Linked DNA regions of Homo sapiens. The protein of the gene in region 2 purifies or fractionates together with the protein of the main gene of each other region. This does not show direct contact. Each region holds a gene or a part of one and is shown on either strand. Other genes may lie near its edges.

What was found.
Region 1: the proteins of SNX21 (region 2) and AMD1 purify together in Homo sapiens (affinity purification with mass spectrometry; 2 studies listed by BioGRID and IntAct, with this or other methods). This does not show direct contact.
Region 3: the proteins of SNX21 (region 2) and HEATR6 purify together in Homo sapiens (co-immunoprecipitation; 3 studies listed by BioGRID and IntAct, with this or other methods). This does not show direct contact.

The regions. Positions count from the first base shown.
Region 1 is NC_000006.12:110,877,784-110,884,810, reverse strand, and holds part of AMD1 (S-adenosylmethionine decarboxylase proenzyme), read right to left. Parts: intron 1-7,027.
Region 2 is NC_000020.11:45,836,776-45,843,780, forward strand, and holds the end of SNX21 (sorting nexin-21), read left to right. Parts: exon of another isoform or gene 1-560; intron 561-1,492; coding exon of another isoform or gene 1,493-1,616; exon of another isoform or gene 1,617-1,757; intron 1,758-2,704; exon of another isoform or gene 2,705-3,530; coding exon of another isoform or gene 3,531-3,683; intron 3,684-3,863; coding exon 3,864-4,538; 3' UTR 4,539-5,062; coding exon of another isoform or gene 5,063-5,181; 3' UTR 5,182-5,257; coding exon of another isoform or gene 5,258-5,268; 3' UTR 5,269-6,501; downstream 6,502-7,005. Other genes in the region: ACOT8 (acyl-coenzyme A thioesterase 8), read right to left, coding at 5,063-5,181, 6,752-6,946. UniProt on the Homo sapiens protein: Binds to membranes enriched in phosphatidylinositol 3-phosphate (PtdIns(P3)) and phosphatidylinositol 4,5-bisphosphate. May be involved in several stages of intracellular trafficking.
Region 3 is NC_000017.11:60,054,896-60,061,922, forward strand, and holds part of HEATR6 (HEAT repeat-containing protein 6), read right to left. Parts: intron 5,202-7,027; coding exon 4,995-5,201; intron 4,627-4,994; coding exon 4,527-4,626; intron 2,509-4,526; coding exon 2,153-2,508; intron 1,343-2,152; coding exon 1,220-1,342; intron 707-1,219; coding exon 620-706; intron 1-619. UniProt on the Homo sapiens protein: Amplification-dependent oncogene.

The sequences.
Region 1 (7,027 bases), on a different chromosome or scaffold from region 2:
ACCATTTCTATTAAGACTTTTAAACACGTTCCATGGCTGAACTAAACAGTGTAACAGTCTTTTCCTTTCTTATTTTTGTTTTCTCTTTTTTTAAAGGCTGTTGTGGCCAGGCACTGTGGTTCAGAGGCCAAGAAGGAAGGATCACGAGACCAGAAGTTCAAGACCAGCCTGGGCAACATAGCAATAGCCAGTCTCTTAAAAAGAAAAAAGGCAGCTGGGAGTGGTGGTGCAGGTCTGTAGTCCCAGCTACTCGGTAGGCTGATGTGGGAAGTTTGCTTGAGCCCAGGAGATGGAGGGTGCAGTGAACCATGATCACACCGCTACACTCCAGCCAGGGTAACAGAGCAAGACCCTCTCTTAAAACAAAGTATTCACCCTTACAACTTGTAGCACAGATACTTTAAAGTCTTGGTCCATGTCACCTTGAGGTTGGTGTCTGCTGTCTTTTCCTTTGAGATGTTAAGATTTTCCTGGTTTTGAGTATGTTGACTAATTTAGGATGGCATCCTGGATATTTTGACATGTTACATCATTCTAGGTCTTGATTTTTAAAAACTTTCAGCAGACAATCTGGTTTGGTTTAGGCTTCAAGTTTTTACTCAATGTTTCTAGGTTGTGTTATGGTTCCAGTGTCAGGTTTGTTATGAACTCCTTTGCTATGTTATTTGCATCTGCCCCACTTATTTGCCACCCAATGGCCAGGCTGGCCCTGGAGAGGCAGTCTATTGTGTATTCTAGTTTTCAAAGCCTCTGATGTGCTGTTTAGGGTCAGATCCATGCAAAATGGCTAAGGAGTGTTCATATAAAACTTTATAGGTTTACTTTCTTCAACCTTCCATAATCTCTCTGACAATGCCTGACTCACATAGGGGATAGGGGAAGGACTCTTCTTCATCCACTACCTATAAAAATAGGGCTTTGGCCGGGCGCAGTGGCTCACGCCTGTAATCCCAGCACTCTGGGAGGCAGGAGGATCACAAGGTCAGGAGATCAAGACCATCCTGGCTAACAAGGTGAAACCCCGTCTCTACTAAAAATAAAAAAAAAAAAAATTAGCTGGGCATGGTGGCGGGCACCTGTAGTCCCAGCTACTTGGGTGGCTGCGGCGGGAGAATGGCATGAACCCGGAAGGCGGAGCTTGCAGTGAGCCGAGATCGTGTCACTGCACTCCAGCCCTGGCTACAGAGCAAGACTCTGTCTCAAAAACAAACAACAAACAAAAAATGATTCCCTTCTCTCGTTGTTTTAGACATCTGCCTAACTGCCACAGCTGCTAAAGGCCTACAAGAGGATTGGGGCAGAATAGAACAAAACAAAAGCAAAAAAGAGATTTCTTCCACTCTGATTCAAAGGGGCCTCTCATTCTTTCTTTGCAGAGGAGAACTAGAGAGCCTTTCTTGGAACTATTTTTGCCTGCCCCTACTTTTCAGTTCTGGGTTTCTGGCAAGCCCAGGAGAAATCAGCGAGGAGATACCACAGGGGAAAAAAAACAGGAAATTCACTGCTGGTTCAGTGGAATTTAAAGTTCTGGCTTTCTTCTCCATTTCACCTGCTAAAATTTACTTCTCAGAGTCCTTGGATAGCTGCTCAACAATGCATTCTGTCCAGGGTTTATTAATTGCATTTTAATAAGAGAAGACAGTGTAGCATGCTTCTTCTGTAATGGCAGAGAAATAACCTTTTGTTTTCTGAGCCAGTCTCACTGTCACCCAGGCTGGAGAACAATGGCACAATCACAGCTCACTGCAGCCTTGGCCTCCCATGCTCAAAGAGATCCTCCCACCTCAGCCTCCCAAGTAGCTGGGACCACAGGGCATGTATCACTACACCTTACTAATATATTTTTAATTGTTTTGTAGAGATGAGGTCTCCCTATGTTGCCCAGGTTGGTCTCAAACTCCTGGGCTAATGAGATCCTCCCATCTCAGCTTCCCAAAGTGCTAGGATTATAGGCACGTGCCAACCCATTGGCTTCAAAATGCTCTTATACTCACTCATCATCAGTTAATAAAATTCTCCATTCAAACCTTTCCTCAACTAATAGTAATGCTCCGGTAATCAGAATTTTTCAATCATAGTATCAAAAGAAAGCAATTACTTTAAGCAACCTAGGACAAACAGTTAAACTGTCTATCAACCTAGTGATGATAAAGGCATTTACCAGAGCTACTAAGCTCAAGAAAAATAAATCAGAGGGCAAAATAGACGAAAGAAAAAAGTAGTCAATACAATGCTATACATGTACATAAAAGAGGTGAAAAACTCTGCAACAGCTGAAAATTTCAGCACAAATTATTTCTATCACATTTCTGTGGGAAAAAATGGCCTGCTTTTGTAAATAAAGCTCTACTGGAACCTAGCCACACCCATTCATTTATACATTGACTATGGTTATTTTCTCCCTATAAGGGCAGAGCTGAGTAATTGCAACAGACTGTCTGCCTTGCAAAATTTAAAATTTACTCCCTAGTCCTTTACAGAAAGTTTGCTGACTCTTGTTTTGGAGGAAAGGTTTTCAGTGGTCTGCTTTCTGATCAAATTAATGATGGAAAAGACAAAGTGCTTTATACAGTCGACAGAGCCATTTTTAAAATTAGGTTGCAGTGAGCCAAGATCGTGCCACTGCACACCAGCCTGGGCGACAGAGTGAGACTGTGTGTCAAAAATAGAAAAGATAGTATTAAGCTAGAATGTTTTATCAGGCTCAGTAGTGATAGTGGTCTTGTCTCTGCTTCACTCCCAAGTACACTACAAACTGAGACTTTGAAGCACTAGTCTATTATAAACTATTTATAAAACTGATCTATTTGGCAATCCTTGCTATTTAAAGAGTCAATAAATCAAATTGATGGATATAAAGCAGAATCAAGAGAAGCAAGATAGCAAGATGATTTTGGGATTTGTTCACATTACAGCTCACGTAATACTGATCTAGTCATTAGAAATTATTATAAAGCTATTCAAGCACACAATTTTTTTTTTTTTTGAGATGCAGTCTTGTTCTGTCACCTAGGCTGGAGTGCAGTGGTATGCTATCAGCTCACTGCAAACTCCGCCTCCCAGGTTCAAGCAAGTCTCCTGCCCCAGCCTCCCGAGTAGTTGGGACTGATTACAGGCATCTGCCACCATGTCAGGCTAATTTTTTTTTTGTATTTTTAGTAGAGAAGGTGTTTCACCATGCTGGCCAGGCTGGTCTCGAACTCCTGACCTCAAGCAATCCACCCGCCTCGGCCTCCCAAAGTGCTGGGATTTGGGATTACAGGCATGCACCACCATGCCTGGCCCGAAGCACACAATTCTTAGGTGGTTATAAAACACAAAGAAATATGTAGATTGAGTATTTCCTGATTTGAATTCCTTTTTCTCATCTTAAATGCCACCTCTCTGATCTAACTCAGTGGTTCTCAACTTGTAGTAATTTTGCCACCCAGAAGACATGTGGCAACATTTGGAGACATTTTTTATCACAACTGGGGTGGTGGTGGTGTTGCCAGCATGCAGTGGATAGAGGCCAGGGACACTGCTACACACGGTATAATTAACAGGATAGTCATTGACAACAGTGAATTATCTGAATCAAAATGTCAAGAATGCTGAGGTTGAGATACCCTAATTTCACTTAAAGACTAGATACTAAAATATTAAATATAATCAGAGATCATGATAAATGATCCCAAAGAAAAATAGATGTTCTATATTAATAACAGCACACAAATTGTATGTCTGAAAAACAACACTTTAGTGGCATGCCACATTTTATATTTAAAACATTTTCTTAGAGGCTGAGGTCTAATAAAAATAGAATTTAGAAATGTCTACAGGGACAAGATAATTATATTATAACAAGACTTCTCTATGTCGCCTGATTAAATGCATTTTGGGAGCCCGAGGCAGGCGGATCACTTGAGGTCAGGAGTTCAAGACCAGCCTGACCAACATAGCGAAACCCGCCTCTAGTAAAAATACCAAAATTAGCCAGGTGTGGTGGCGCAGGCTTGTAGTCCCAGCTACTCGTGAGGCTGAGGCAGGAGAATCACTTGAACCCAGGAGGCGGAGGCTACAGTGCACCAAAAATCACACCACTGCACTTCAGCCTGGGAGACAGAGCAAGACAAGCGTGTCTCAAAAAAAGAAGTAAATGACTGAGCTCAACTATCTTGAACAAGAGTCCCAAGCCTACATAACAGGGAAAAACATCGCTTCCACAAATAGTGCTGGGAAAAAATGGATGTCCACATGCAAACAAAATTAAGTTGGACTTTTACCTTACATCATAAACAAAAATTAACTCAAAATGGATCAACAACCTAAACATTAACAGCGAATAAAACTCCTAGAAGAATACATAGGGTAAATGCTTCAGGGCATTACATTTGGCAATGATTTCTTGGATATGACATACAATAAAATCAAAAACAGACAAATGGAACTTGAAAACCTAAAATGTAAACATTTCTATACATCAAAAGAAACGAGTGAAAAGACAACCTACAGAATAAAATACTTGCAAGTCACCTCATAAGGGGTCAATATCCAAAGCAAAAGACACACCTACACACAACTCAACAAAAAGTGATTAAAAAATGGACAAAGGGACCAGGGGCGATGGCTCAATCACTTGAAGTCAGGAGTTCAAGACCAGCCTAGCCAACATGGCGAAACCCTGTCTTTTACTAAAAATACAAAAATTAGCCAGGCATCGTGGTGCATACCTGTAGTACCCACTATTAGGGAGGCTGAGGCAGGAGAATCATTTGAACCTGGGAGGCGGAGGTTGCAGTGAGCTGAGATGGCACCACTGCACTCGAACCTGGGTGACTGAGACTGTCCAAAAAAAAAAAAGACCAAGAACTTAAATACAGAAGGATCCCATTAGTGCAGGGTTATGCTCTAATCACCTGAAAACTCAATACATAGATGCTATTCCCATACCCAGTTAGGTCAGACACTTTCTGAGGATGATGCCTGCAAATTTTTATTTGAAAAGCTTCCAGGTCATTAGATTACTCATTACTTCCTAATGTAAAACCAGCTGGTTTCAGAGTTCAGGTAATTTATCCAAAGTCACTGCAGCTTCTCAATTCTGCTCTTACCTCATATTTTTAGGTCTGTTTTAGAGGCTCTCATTACAGTACATTCATCAGGGTGCCTCTACCCCAGGTAGTAAGCAGTCTTTAGGTAAAAGGCATCCTAAAACCAGATCATTCTTGAGTAAAGCTAGACTGACCAGAAGTTAGATTCTGAGGGTGCCTTCCTGCGGCAGTGAATTCAGATAACCTGAGAAATAAGCCTCCTCCCTTTTGTTCAAAGATATGAACCTATTATCATCACATTATTGTTTCTCTATCTCAAATTTTTACCCCAAATCGGGATACTCCTCTCAGTTTTCTGCTACTTTCAACATGTGCTTCTTAAAGATACATGGTTTGTAAACAACAGTTGAAATATTTTCGTTGTTGTTGAGAGGGTTTCACTCTGCCACCAGATGGAGCGCACTGGTGCAATCTCATTTCGCTGCAGCCTCGATCCCCCAATGGCTCAAAAAAATCCTCCCACCTCAGCTTCCCGAGTGGCTGGGATGCAGACACGCACCAGGATGGACCAGCACGCACAGATAATTTTTCAATTTTTTTTGTAGAGTCAGGATTTCACTATGTTGCCCAGACTGGGCTCTCAAACTCCTTGGTCTCTCAGAGTGCTGGGATTAGACATGAGCCACCAAGCCCAGCCATGAAACCTTTTTGAAACTGCTGGGAGGAATGTAACGAGAAGCTTTATTCTTTAGCAGGAAGCATTTCTACTCTGAAACATTACACTAAAAGGTTTTTTGGCAACGGGTTGTAAATTCCTTCAATGTAAATTATTGATATTGCAATAATGCTGCATAATGATGTAGTCAAATAAGTCATGAGTTTGGGGAAAGTTAAGCTGAGGTATGACTATCTTTACAACTGCCCCAATCCTTTACTAAAAATTATGTTTTAGTTTATAAAATCTGAGTAAAGCACAGTAATAGGATTTCCAGTCCTGAAAAATCATTCTTTTCTCAGCAAAATTTTCTATTTTCTAACAGATTTCCTTCTTACTACTCTCACCCTCCCTAAAGCTGCCATGTCTTATAAAAAGCTTTTGTTTGTTACAGCACTTTGATCCAACAACTAAACCATTTTTTAAATGGTCACTGATTTTTATTCAACATCCGTAAAATCTGAAAAATCAGAGAAAACTGCAGGTTACCCCTAAGAAACCGCCTCTCCCTTAATTGTCCTTTATTCATCTGGATATACCTGGACTGCTGCTTTTCTCCAACAGTATTGTTTAACCCAAGCTATATCATAAAAGATTTTTCTTTGTTAAATTTCTCAGTATTACATAATTTGTTCACTTAAGATAAAATATCTTAAATGGTCTACAAGAGGGAAGCAGTGTTTAGTAAAAAGGTGTACATTCAGAAAAGATTCCAAGCATTAAAGCTTGGACTGATGAGCCAAGTTTGTTTAAAGTGTATTCCCTCACACCACACACAAAATCAATTCCAGATGGATTGCAGATCTAAATATGAAAGGTAAATATCGTGTAGGAGAAAAAAATATTTCAGACTTTGGGATGAGAAAACCGAGGGAAGTATGTTGTTTCCCAGAAGAATGCGTGAAAAAAGTTGGATATTTTCTCCCTTGAATTATACAGAACACTCCAGTGAAATCATCTGGGCCTAGATGATTGACTGATTCAAGTTATTTAGGTGTTCTAGGACTGTTTTGGGTTCTCCATTTCTTCTTGCATTAGTTTTGGAAAGCTATTTTTCCAGGATTTTTTTCTCCCTCATATCCTTATCTTGTTATCCTTGTCTTTAGCATCAATACTAATGCTCTCTTTGGACATTTAAGCCTTTCATTCTCTTAATCGTTTTTATGTCCCTATGTTTATTATGCTTTATAAACAGATTTGTTTAATTCCATCTGTTCATCTTTTAACCTACTTTTAGTTTATTCACATCTTAATAGAGCCCAGGAGGTCAAGGCTGCAG
Region 2 (7,005 bases):
CTGGATGGGAAGGGATGACAAGATAGAGCAGGATGGCCAAGTATGCCCCGGCCTGTGTCTGGAGAAGCAAGGCACCTCCTGTGTACAATGGGGACCCTAATTCCCCACTCAACTTGTGGGGGTGAAGAGCACAGGCTTTGGAATCAGATCAACCTGAGTTTAAATCCCAGCTGGGCTGTTTTCCAGCTGTGTGACTTACGGCAAGTCTTTGAGCCCTTTTCCCCCTCTTTGAGCCTGCTTCCTCAGCTGTCAGAGATAAGGACCTTCCTTGCAGTGCTGTTGTGATGATTAAATGAAATCACAGATGTAAAGAGTGCTTGGTACAACAGGAGGCACAGGGTAAATGCTTGGGTAATGGAACTACTGTCATTATCACCCATCTGGCTGCATGTTACAAGGTCAATGAGATAATGGATACAAAATGTAAACTAGATGAACATAAAGGCTTATTATATAGACCAGTGTGTCCTGAAGAAAACTGGTGTCCTAAAGTGTGTCCTGCAGAAAACTAGTTCCCTGGAATGTTAATAGCTGTTTCTAAATAAAGGTTTTGCAGGCAATATGTTTTGAGAATGCAGAGTTAAATGAGAATACAATAAGTTTCTTTATTGTTAAAGTATTTAATCCCTAATAGTGATATACACTGTGAATCTTCAAGAGGACAGAGTAAGCAAACCTAACTGACCAGGAGTGGCTAGAGTATTGTCAGTTCCACAGAACAAATGTGAGAGAAAGATCTGGATTTGGTGTTAGGGTGCCTTTAACATCTAACACTGGTTAACTCTCCTTTTAAACCTGTTGGCTTGGCATTATAGGTTAATCCATATTCAGGTTCTCAGACCTGGGAGGCGGGGAACTTCGTGATCATCTTGTTCAGTGTTTTCCAAACCTCAGTCATTCCAATACCTCCCTGATTCTTGTCCTATCTAAAAATGCCACTTGTGTCCTTTTCTTCTTAACATTTTTCTTTAAATGAACCTATTTTTTTTTCTTTATCTTTTTTTTTTTCTTTTTTGAGACAGAGTCTTGCTCTGTTGCCCAGGCTGGAGTGCAGTGGTGCAATCTCAGCTCACTGCAACCTCCACCTCCTAGGTTCAAGCAATCCTCCCGCCTCAGCCTCCTGAGTAGCTAGGATTACAGGTGCCCACCACCATGCCTGGCTAACTTTTGCATTTTCAGTAGAGATGGGGTTTCACTGTTGGCCAGGCTGGTCTTGAACTCCTGACCTCAAGTGATCTGCCGCCTCAGCCTCCCAAAGTGTTGGGATTACAGGTGTGAGCCACTACGCCCAGCCGAACCTATTTTTTTTCTTAAATAAGTTTATCGAGACGGAGTCTTGCTCTGTCGCCTAGGCTGGAGTGCAGTGGCGTGATCATAGCTCACTGCAGCCTTGAACTCGTGGGCTCACATGATTCTCTGCCTCAGCCTCCTGAGTAGCTGGGACCACAAGTGCCCAACTAATTCTTTTTCTTTTTCTTTTTCTTTTTTTTAGAGACAGGGTCTTGCCATGTTGCCCAGGCTGGTCTCGAACTCCTGGCCTTAAGCTGTTCTCCTGCCTCAGCCTCCCAAAGTACTGGGATTACAGGTATGAGCCACTGTGCCCATCCTTTAAGTAATTTTAAAAGACAACTTCATAGCACTACCGTACGTGGAAAGTCTCACTTGCCACCGAGAGAAGCTAGCCATAAAAATAAAAGGTGAGGCACGGTGGCTCACACCTGTAATCCCCGCACTTTGGGAGGCTGAGGTGGGCAGATCACCTGAGGTCAGGAGTTCAAGACCAGCCTGGCCAACACGGTGAAACCCCGACACTACTAAAAATACAAAAATTAGCCGGATGTGGTGGTAGGCGCCTGTAATCCCAGCTACTCGGGAGATTGAGGCAGGAGAATTGCTTGAACCCAGGAGGCAGAGGTTGCAGTGAGCGGAGATTGTGCCACTGCATGCCAGCCTGGGCGACAGGGCGAGACTAAATAAATAAATAAAGTAAATAAGTAAGTAGTGAAAATGAAACGTCATTAAATCTTGCCTAGATGTTGTTGCCTGAAGGAGGCCCTGACCTGAGATCCACTTTCTGACTCTTTTCTAAAAATGGAGATGAGAAGTGTTAGAGAAGTACTTTTTTTTTTTTTTTTTGAGAGAGAGTTTCACTCTTGGTGCCCAGGCTCGAGTGCCATGAGCAATCTCGGCTCACCACAACCTCCACCTCCCAGGTTCAAGCAATTCTCCTGCCTCAGCCTCCCAAGTAGCTGGGATTACAGGCATGTGCCACCACGCCTGGCTAATTTTGCATTTTTAGTAGAGACAGGGTTTCTCCATGTTGGTCAGCCTGGTCTCGAACTCTCAACCTCAGGTGATCCACCTGCCTCAGCCTCCCAAAGTGCTGAGATTACAGGTGTGTGTGTGAGCCACTGCAACCTGCCCAAGAAGTCCTTTTTTTAAAACCAAACTGAGAGCTGGCCAGGCGCGGTGGCTCACACCTATAATCCCAGCACTCTGGGAGGCAAAGGCGGGCGGATCACAAGGTCAGGAGATCGAGACCATCCTGGCTAACACAGTGAAACCCCGTCTCTACTAAAAAATACAAAAAATTAGCCGGGCGTAGTGGCAGGCGCCTGTAGTCCCAGCTACTCGGGAGGCTGAGGCAGGAGAATGGAGTGAACCCAGGAGGCGGAGCTTGCAGTGAGCCGAGATCGTGCCACTGTACTCCAGCACTCCAGCCTGGGCAACAGAGCGAGACTCCGTCTCAAAAAAAATAAAAAAATAAAAAAACCCCAACAAAACCAAACTGAGAGCTTCTCAATTTGTAGTCAGAAAGATTAAAAAACAATTAGGCTGGGTGTGGTGCTCATGCCTGTAATCTTAGCACTTTGGGAAGCCTAGCTAGGAAGATTGTTCAAGGCCAGGAGTTCAAGGCCAGCCCTAGCAACATAGTGAGACCCCCCCTCATCTCCATACAAAAAAAAAAAAAAAAATTTTTTTAAATAGCTGAGTGTGGTGGTGCATGCCTATAGTCCTAGCTACTTGGGAGGCTGAGGCAGGAGGAATGCTTCAGCCCAGGAGGTTGAAGCTGCAGTAAGCTATGATTGTACCAGTGTACTCCAACCTGGCCAACAGTGAGACCCTGTCTCAAAAAATAATAATTAAAAGGGGACCAACCTCCTGATACAGTGATATTTACTCTAGTGCACACCACCTAAAAACCTCAGGTACCAATACTTGTACATGTCTCATTTTTGGACAAACACTGACTTGACCGAGCACTTCCTTCACTAGAAACAGAAGTGGACCCAGAGGGGGACTCCCTTGCCTGGGTCACACAGAGAAGGAGTAGCTGACCTGGGGTTAGAACTTGAGTCCTAGGCCAGTATACTTTTCACAGTTATGGCAGTTGTGGCTATCTACAGACCTGTCCTCTGGGTCTAGTTTGGAAAAGCCTGACCAGGGATGTGGAGGCCAGGTGTCCAAAGTGGAACAAGCTCCAAGCTGGTCCTAAAGGAGCCCCAAGAGATTGGCTGGGGTTTCAGCTTATGTCTGGTTTTCCAGAGGGGGCTGTCAGAAGAACTAATGCTCTATGGGAAGGGAGTACAAAAAAAGGGGCAGCAGCCCCGGGCACTGAAGCTCATCTCTGTCTTTCTCTCTTCTTGCTGCCTTGGGCCTGGGTCATTTCAGACAAACCTCAGGTAAGATGGGACTGGGCTTCCCCGCCACTGCGCAGCAGCTCCCGCCCTCCTGGGTGCTGTCCCAGGGGTGAAAGGAAGAGGTGGGGAGGTACAGCTGGGAGTGTGGGGGATGGGGAAGGATGGGGAGGGAACGGGCCCGTGGACAACTTGCATTTGCCCTGACACCCACCCTCCCTGCAGCTCTACACCCTCGCCGTGATCGGCCCAGGACCGCCAGATTGCCAGCCAGCCCAGATCTCTCGCCGTTACTCGGACTTTGAGCGGCTGCACCGAAACCTGCAGCGGCAATTCCGGGGCCCAATGGCTGCCATCTCCTTCCCCCGTAAGCGGCTGCGCCGGAATTTTACTGCAGAGACCATTGCCCGCCGTAGCCGGGCCTTTGAGCAGTTTTTGGGTCACCTGCAGGCAGTGCCTGAGCTGCGCCATGCCCCGGACCTGCAGGACTTCTTCGTGCTGCCGGAGCTGCGGCGGGCACAGAGCCTCACCTGTACTGGCCTCTATCGTGAGGCTCTGGCACTCTGGGCCAATGCCTGGCAGCTGCAAGCCCAGCTGGGCACCCCCTCTGGCCCAGACCGCCCCCTGCTGACCCTGGCTGGGCTGGCCGTGTGCCACCAGGAGCTGGAAGACCCTGGAGAGGCCCGGGCATGCTGTGAGAAGGCCCTGCAGCTGCTTGGGGACAAGAGCCTCCACCCTTTGCTGGCACCCTTTCTGGAGGCCCATGTCCGGCTCTCCTGGCGCCTGGGCCTGGACAAACGTCAATCAGAGGCTCGGCTCCAAGCCCTGCAGGAGGCAGGCCTTACCCCCACACCACCCCCCAGTCTCAAAGAATTGCTCATCAAGGAGGTGCTGGACTAACCCTTGCCTAGATTTAAGGCCACTGTGAGGAGAGGGGTTGCCCCAGAAGGCAGGGGAAGGACCTGATGAGAACAGAATAGCTGGGAGGCTGCAGAGGGTGCTGGGAGCCCCTAGAAGTTCCAAAAGAGAATGTGAAGCAGATCAAGGAAACTTCTGTTGAGCTAGGCTCAGGGTGAGCTTTGGCTGGGGTTGCCCTTGTGTAGTACAGGGAAGTCTGACACAGCCTCTCCAGCCTATAAACAGCCGGGGGGCTGTGGCACAGGTTGGGGCAATGTTCCCTTGTTGGTGGGCCCCCAAGCTGGCAAGGCCTCTTGGCTGAAGGCCAGGGACTCTGCCCCTGGAGTCCTGGAGTTAAGGGATGAAGGCAAGGCTGCAGGTCTGGCCCAGGGGAATTAAAAGCCAGCCACTCCAGTGGTATCAGTCTCTTTATTGGATGTGAGGGCCAAAAGGGACTGTAACTCCTGTCTCAGGAATGGGGATAGATGGGAGGTTCTTGAAGCCCCAGGCGAAGCTGGTACCTCTGGCTACAGCTTGCTCTCTGAGACCTGGGGCTTCACTCGGATCACGCCCTCCTGGGCACAGGTCACAGCTAGGACTCCATCCTGACGCCACAGCCGCCCATGGACCAGCCCCCGAGAGCCACCTGTGGGTGAGGTGAAGGGTGATGATGGCCTGCTTCAGAACAGCCAAATACACTTTTTTTTTTTTTCCTGAAACAGAGTCTCACTAAGTTGCCAGGCTGGTCTCAAGCGCCTGGGTTCAAGGGATCCTCCCGCCTCAGCCTCCTGAGCAGCTGGGATTACAGGCGCACATCACCATGCCCAACCTCCAAGTGGACTTCTTGCAAAGGGTCTGGCCCAGGGCAGGGCTGCCCCACACAAGGGTGCACTGAGTGTCGTGGCTGCTCCAAATGCCCCTTCATGAGCTTATTATGGACCGTCATTGAGGGGTAACTCCTCCCACAGGAACCCCAGTTGACAGTTTAAAAGCACTTTCACACCTCTCCTCGCTTCCTCAAAAAGATCACAGAGGGAGGAGCTCTGAGAACAGTCTCCTTCAACAGCTCGGCCAAGCAGAACTGCTGTACCTCTGACCACTTGTGTTAGGAAAACTATCGGCTCCCTGTATAATAAATCAAGCCAGGTCCTCCAAGTGGTAATTCATGAAAAATATCCCCACTACCACCACCAAGGGGAAGAAAGGACTCAGAAGAGAGGACTTGAGGCCATGAGGTCTGGCCTCTTCCCTCCCCATCTGGAGACTCTTTCTCCCTTGCTGGCTTTGGGCCCAAGTTTGATGTTTATGAGGATGATTGCTGGTTTCCCTTACACATAGCAGAGCTCACTCAGTTCTCACAGTAGCCAAATGAAGCAGTTATGTGTTGTCCAGTTTTCCAGACCAGGACTGAAATCCAGAGAGGGTCAGGAATTTGGCCCCATGATGAAGCCAAATCTGAACCCATGTCCTCACTTCAAGGTTATCAATCTTGGATTGTGATGCTATTGGTACTTGAGAATACCCCTTATCTGAGTATAAAGAATCCTTGAGTTTTGTCCTTGGTTTATCAAGCAAAGCTTTTCTTCATTTGAAATGTACTCCCTTGGAAAGGAGGTCAGGGTTCTGAAGCTAGACATTGATGAACGAGTCTTGTTTCTCTCCCCTGCAAGGAAGGTCCAAGCAGGCCCTTAGGGACCACTGAATGCCCCGATCCCAATCAGGTTAATCAGAATCACTTAGAGAACTTAAAAATACAGTTTCCTGGACCTTATCCAAGACCTACTGAGTGAGAATCTTGAGGGTGGAATCAGAATCTATTTTGAAAAGGCATCCCCAAATGGCAGTCTGATGGACTGCGGGTTTGGATACCACTGCTGTAATGTAACCCTCTTTGTTTAGATGAGGAAACTGAGGTTCAGATGGAAGATATGATTTGCCTATTGTAATACAAAGAATCTGAACTGGTTTTGGGACTAGAACTGGGTCCCTGGGAGAAGGTGAATCACATTTCCAGCACATTCTAGAAATTTAGAGCAGAGCAGGTGTCCCGGCCTCACCCTCTCATTTTGAAGATGAAGATGCCAAAGCCTGGGAGGGAAGGAAAGGAAGTGACCTGTGCAGCGCCACACAGGAAGTCGGGAAATCAGCATCACCCAAGAAAGCAGGCTCCTGCCACTCAAGGTCAGTGCCCTTGTCCCACACGGCCCCACACTCACCGGCCCAGGGGCTCTCGCATTCATAGAGCATCCAGTGGTCAGCTCGGAAGGGGGCGTGGAACCACATGGAATGGTCCAGTGAGACCATGAAGTGCACCTTGTGCTGCCACTGGTGAGGCAGCAGTGCAGTGCCCAAGAAGGCATAGTCGGAGATATAGGCGGCCACGCAGCAGTGCATCTTCATGTCGCCCTCGCCTGCAACAGGTCCCCATCAGCCCTGGGCTCCTGGGCTTTCCAGCTCAGGACCTGCACGG
Region 3 (7,027 bases), on a different chromosome or scaffold from region 2:
GATATGGTTTGGATGTGTGCCTCCTCAAACCTCATGCTGAAATGTGACCTCTAACACTGGAGGTGGGCCTAATAGGAAGTGTTTGGGTCATGGGGGTGGATCCCTCTTGAATGGCTTGGTGCTGTCCTTGTGGTAATGAGTGAACTCTCACTCTATGAGCTCATACGAGAGCTGGTTGTTTAAAAGAGCCTGGCATCTCCCTCTTGCTTACTCTCTTGCCATATGACATGCCTGCTCCCCCTTTGCCTTCCACCAGGATTTAAAGCTTCCTGGGGCTTCCTCAGAGGTAGATGCTGGCACCATGCTTTTTGTACAGCCTGCAGAACTGTGAGCCAGATAAACCTCTTTTGCATAAAAAACTAGGTTTTATGCAAAAGAAATATTAGTTTTACTATTGCTGGTTATATGTTATACATAAGCCTACCACAAACTAAACTGCAAATAAACTGAAATGTAAAATAAAACCAATTTATACTAGTTTCATGTTTTCCTGGATTATAAAACATAATTTTTGACACTGGAAGAAACCATATCATCTACTCCATTTATCACTGAGCTTCAAAATAAAACTGCAACTGAAGCATTAATAAAAGAAAACTATGAATTGACATTTATTTACCAAGAAGACTGGTGCTCTCTGATCAGGTGCTGCAGTGGAGTCTGGTTTATACTGCTGTATTAAGCCTGTGCCCAGTTCTTCCAGAAGCTGCCAAGAAAAAGAATTACCGAAGTGGAGCATCAGAACTAATGAATGACTTCACTTGAGTAACACCTTCACTCTAGTAACACCTTCACTCTAGTAACACCTCCACTCGAGTAACACCTTCACTCGAGTGACACCTTCACTCTAGTAACACCTTCACTTTAGTAACACCTTCACTTGAGTTTGGAGATCGCCTCAAATCAAGGGGAAACATAATTTGCAACTAATTTTCTTTCTTTTTTCAGTCACTGTTAACAGAGGCATTCTTTCAAGGACTGAAATCAACAGCTATATCTTATTAATTTGTTACTGAGTCAATGCGTGGGGTTTATATGTAAGAGCCGAAAACAGAAGAATGCATGTCCTCCTTACCTGAAATCTCTTTAAGAAATCTCAGAATTGAAGGACATGTGGCAGAAGAATATAAAGTGAAGAAAAGGAAGGATATAAAGTGAAGAAAAGGAAGGATATAAAGTGAAGAGAAGGAAAAAGCATTGTGGTTTTGATGAAAATTACCTTTGCTCCATGAAGCTGAATGGATGGATCTGCTTCCCCCATGCACTTGCAAATCACCTCTCCAAGCTCCATCAAGTAGGCTTGAGTCATTGAAAAGTAGCCCCTTGCCAGAAGAGTCAATACCTGCAAAGAGAGCATGGAATTAACCCTCTAAGACCTGAGTGCAAGGCTGCAATATCCAGAAAAGTGTTACAATATTTCAGAAATCGCTTACATTTAACAGGGGCTGAAATCTGTTGAATGAAATTAAGAACCATAATCTTTATTTTGTGACTAACATCAATAAACTGTATCATAGTTTTATGGTGCTTTAGTATATGATTGCTTTTCATTAACAGAATCTCATTTAAGTCTTGGAACTATTCTTTAAAGTAGGTATTAACTGAATTTTACAACTAAAGAACCTAAGCCTGACAAGATGAAAGGACATGCTTCATGCTGCCCAGTTAATCAGCAGCAGACCTCAGGACCAGGCCTAGTCTCAGATCATATTTGTATAGAAAAAGTAAACTCTTTTATCTAGGATTGTTTTCTTCCTTTGAAGGAACAATTATTTTGTTACTCTAAGCAGGTACAAGACCAAGGAAAAGCTTATAGAGAATTAAACATTTAAGTTGCAAAAATCAAAAATTAACTGTACAATTTCACTCAGAATTATTCTACAATCTATTACATCCACTTGTCATATAATACCTGAAGGGACTAAAATAATTTGCAATCAAAGAACAAAAAGGAATGAATCTGCTATTTTACAACCAAAGAACACCTCCCCAAAACAAAACAACAACAAAACAATACACCACCCATACCTAAAATACAATTCCCACGAACACAATTGACATATGGCTTGGTTTTACCTGCTCGCTCCTCACAGTCACTCTGAAGGAGGAATGGTTACTTCCATTTCAGAGATGAGGAAATGAAATCTCCTACCTGTAAGGCCTCCAGTCGCATGGGGGATGGTTCGTAGGTGCTTCCTGCTGCAGAGCCAGCATCGCTACCTGAACAGGAATCCTCCTTGGGCAGTACGACAATGGAAATGCAGAGTCGAATGAGCCAGCAGGGCTCTGAAGACCCCTTAGGTGAGCTAACTGACGTTTCTTCCAGAGAGGGTCCTGCAGGGGCTTTCTTCCACCAATCAGGAGGGCTGAGGTGAGGGGTTGCTGAATTGCTATTACCGAGTCCAGAAGAACATGGCTGTTGCAGAAGTAGTTGGACTTCAGGTAAAGGTGCGTGGGTGGACACTATAGCTCCCAAGAGTGTGAGACTTGACACACGAACATTAACATCTGTCAAAGGAAGCAGTAAGAACTTATCATCATGGCAACAACTACTGTAAAGATGGTAGTTATCCCAGCAGGCAATTAAAAATTAGTAGTTCCTTGTGTAACCTGAATCTAATCAAACTTCTAGACCTCATTTCCAGTTTGGAAATACATGGGACAGGAGAGTAAGTTAACACCATAAAGAAACAATCTGACAAATTGAGAATGTGATTTATTTTGTTATCTTTGGTGACAGAGCTTAGAGTTCACATTCTATAAGACAATTGGGTTGGATTCTTTCCTAAGTCAGTTTGATATAAAAAAGATGGGTGGGGGGACTCTACATTTAAAAAGACTACAGTGACATAATAACTAAATGCAATGCATGTACCTTGAATGAACCCCGGATTTTAACAAGAAATATTTTTAAAAAGCTAAAAGGTCTGTGTCTAGACTCATTTTTTTTTTTGCATGTGATGTCCAGCTGTTCCAGCACCAATTGTTGAAAAGTATCTGCTCCTTTGTTGTAGATCAGTTGACTATATTTATGTGGGTCTATTTCTGGGCTCTCTATTCTGTTCCATTGATCTGTTTGTCTCTTCCTTGGCCAGTATCACACTGTCTTAATTACTGTAGTTTTATAGTAGATTTTGAGGTCAGGGAATGTCAGTCCTTCAGTTTTGTTCTTCTCTATCAATATTGTGTTGGCTATTCCAGGTCTTTTGCATATCCATATATATTTCAGAATCAGTTCATTGATATCTGCAAAATAACTTGCTGGAATTTTGATTGAGACTGCACTGAATCTATAGATCAAGTTGGGAAGAAGTAACATCTTCACAATATTGAGCCTTCCTATCCAGGAATATGGAATCTCTGTCCATTCATTTAGTTCTTTATTTGATCAGAGTTTCACAGTTTTCTTCATATAGATCTTGTACATATTTTGTTAGGCTCATACCTAAGAATTTCAGGGTTTGAACATTTTAATGAAAAAAAGTTACTTGAGGATAAAGTCAGATACTTGAAAGGAAACTTTGAGGCATGGTGCACTCTCCTCAGCTGAAGATGCAGATAATGAAAAGTTGGTACAGTGGAATGAGCAGGGGTTGTTCTCATCTTATTTCTGCCATGAATGTGATGGGAAACCTTAGGGTAAGACTTATCTTTCTGGGTCCCTTTTTTACATATTAGTGTAAGTAGTGAACTGGACTTAGTTACATCTCATTATCTCATTTGAGCCTCATAAAAATCTTATGATGTAGTTATAATTCTTGCTGTTAGGAAGAAATTAGGGTTCAGAGAGGGTCATGGCCATGAGATGGCAAAAATGGGAGTGGGATCCAGACCCTTGGATTGACTTCAGGTCCCATGCTCTTCCCACTATGTCACAGAAAACATCCACTATTCCTTCCTTGTTACAATTCTGCCTGAAAAACTGAACTCATCAGAATGTGGTCCGATCTGAAAGCTTGCAAACAAAAGAAAGGCAAATCTACAAAAGGCAAGTGTTTATAGCACAAATACATTATGTGTAGGAGGAAATAATAAGACTGCACTTAGTAAAGATTTGAAGTTCTGGGGTTTTATCTGAACTTCATAGGAAATAACAATAAAGAAGTTAAATTTTGTATTCCAGTTTTTCTTTCCAAAAAGTAGATAATATCTATCTGTCCGTCTGTCTGTCTATCTAACCATCCATCCATCCTCTACCTATGTGTAAGGGATATAAACAATCATACTCCTCAGGGGGGCTGCTTGCACCTGGCTCAATCTTAATTCTAAAGGGATACTCTGGTCACTGCCCTGAGCATTAAACAGGCAAACTTTACAATTAATCCTCTAGCTCACTTCCACTGGGACTTGAGGGGTCAATTCTTGCAACAGCTTATACCCCTGAAAAGTTGAGAAGAATAAGCAGAGATCTCTTAAGAGTTGTAAAAATGCTTTGAATATATACATATATCTATATCTGTATATTTTTACTAATAGTCTGCATCTGACTGATACAAAGAAGCCATCAGTTTTAAGCCACTACAAACCTTTGTGGCGAATATAAGGCTTTATCTGGTTCCAGACTTTGGTCAGCAGGCTGAGTTTTAGACGATCATAAGGTGCATTTGATACTAAATTTGCAAGGCACTGTAAAACACAAAAAGTAGCTCATCAAAAGGCTTGATTAAACCACAGCATAGAACAAATTTTGCAGCATTTAATTAAAAAAGAAAAGTTTTCACACAACTAAAAATTAGCCCCCCTTTTTTTTAATAACACTTGTATTCTCATTGGTACAACTAAAGATAAAGAAGTATTTTTAGCAAATCATTTATTGGGACATACAGAGATTATAGATAAGATCAGACGAGTAGGTACAGACTTCCAAATAGTGTATTTTTAATAAAACTATTACTTAGTTATATTCTTAAGTCAAGTTACTTTTGAGCTATGTAAAACAGTATACAAAATTAAAACAGAGAAGCCTGCTCTGGAACCCACAGTTGGTACATTACCTTAATTATCTGAGTAACGGTCTGTGAGGATGACTCCGCCACCAAAGCTAACAAAAGACATCTGTGCAACTCTCTAATGCTGCAAGCGATCATTACGGAGAAGGGGGTAAAAGCCCTTCTGTGGTCACTGGTATCTTCAGCAACAGAAAGAAACTGCTTTGAGCCTTCCAAGATGGCAGATAAAACTTGCAGAGCACAGGCACGTGTCTGAAATTTCGGGATGATTCACATTGATTAGTTGAAAATTAGGAGTCAGATTCCCTTCTTCCTATACATATTTAATGTTCAAAGTATTTACAATCATTTTAATTGGAAGAATAAAGGCAATGGGATTATCTGTTAGTTCCTAAAAACTAGGCCACTTGCGTCCCACACCTAAAAAAAAATCTTTATTTTATTTTTATTTTAGAGACACAGTCTCGCTCTGTCACCTAGGCTGCAGTGCAGTGGCGCAATCATAACTCACTGCAGCCTCAAACTCCTGGGCTCAAGCAATCCTCCCACGTCAGCCTCCCAAGTAGCTAGGACTACATGTGTGCCACCACACCTGGCTAAAAAAAAATCTAGAAACCCATTGCTGTTAGGTGTTTTACAGTAAGAAATAAATCTAAGCTACACCATAGCACAAAAATCTGAAATCCTAAGCATGAGAATAAGAATTAGAGGCCTGGTTTATTCAAGCAGAATGCCAACTGAAAAGTTAGAACTAAACAGCCCATGGGGTAGAAAAAACACATGTGCCTAGAGTCTGTTTCCTATTAAAGTTCCTGAGAACATTATGCCTCATATTCCACTCTGAAGTATGTGTGTTCAATGTTAACTTAAATAGGACTTTAGGAACTTTGTGTACATACTGCTTGGCAGACATCATTAGTGATCCAACTTTCAGAAACAGTCTTAGGTACAGGAAATAACACTGCCTGCAGTGACAGTATTTGACAATTCAAAAAAGGAATACCATTAAGTACAATCTTATGAATGGAAAGGACAAAAAGAACATCTTTGTCATGGACTGCTGTATTTGTTAGGAAAGGTGTCACTGGCACCAAGATTTTCTTTATAAGGTTGAAAGATTACTTTCAATTGGTACTCAGATGATTTTGTAGTATTAGAAAGGAAAAGAAAGCCCAACTTTACAAAAATGGGATATAGGTAATAAGCATAGGACTATTAATACGGAATAATATTGTACTCTCTTAGGCCAGCTCATCCAAAAATGATAATTAACATTTTCAGTCAAAAAATTTAAAAGCAGGGAACCAACATTACAATTCTAGAATCTAACCTAAATAGTTACTCAATATGAAGCATATCTGAGTTTGGAGCAAAAAAGGTTTTCCCAAAAGCCTTCAATTATATTATCTCCAAACAACCAGGTAATAAATCACCAGGCAGGCCTTTTATAGAGTGGAGTCGTAGAAATCTAGACTTATTGCTCTGAAGAGAAATTTGAAGTACAGTAGCATCAGACTTCAGAATTAAGCATAATCCCCTAAGGTGGGAAATTGACAATGTATTAGGAAACCGTGTGTATATGTGTGAAAAAACGAGAGAGCGAGAGCATGAACACAAGTCAGCTGATCCAAAAAGGACTTAGATCAGGGGCTGGCAAACTTTTCTGTAAAGAGCCAGCAGTAAACATTTTATATTTTAGACTTTGTGGGCCAGTTTCTGTCACAACCACCCAACTCTGTGATTGTAGCATAGACATGTAAAGGAATAAACGTGGTTGCGTTCCAAAAAGACTTGATTTACGGACAATGCAATCTGAATTCCATATAATTTTCACATATCACGAGATATTATTGTTTTATTTTAAAACCATTTAAAAGTGTAAAAACCATTCTTAGCTAACAGGCTGTACAAAAACAGGTGGTGGGCCAGATTTGCCCTACGGGCCACAGCTGGCCAATCCCTACTAGAGGCTCGTCCGAACTCAACAAGATAGATCTTATGCTAAACCTTCATTTCTTTAGAAGACAATTAAAAATCACAATTCCAACAGCTCACAAACTGAATGAAATTAAAAATCG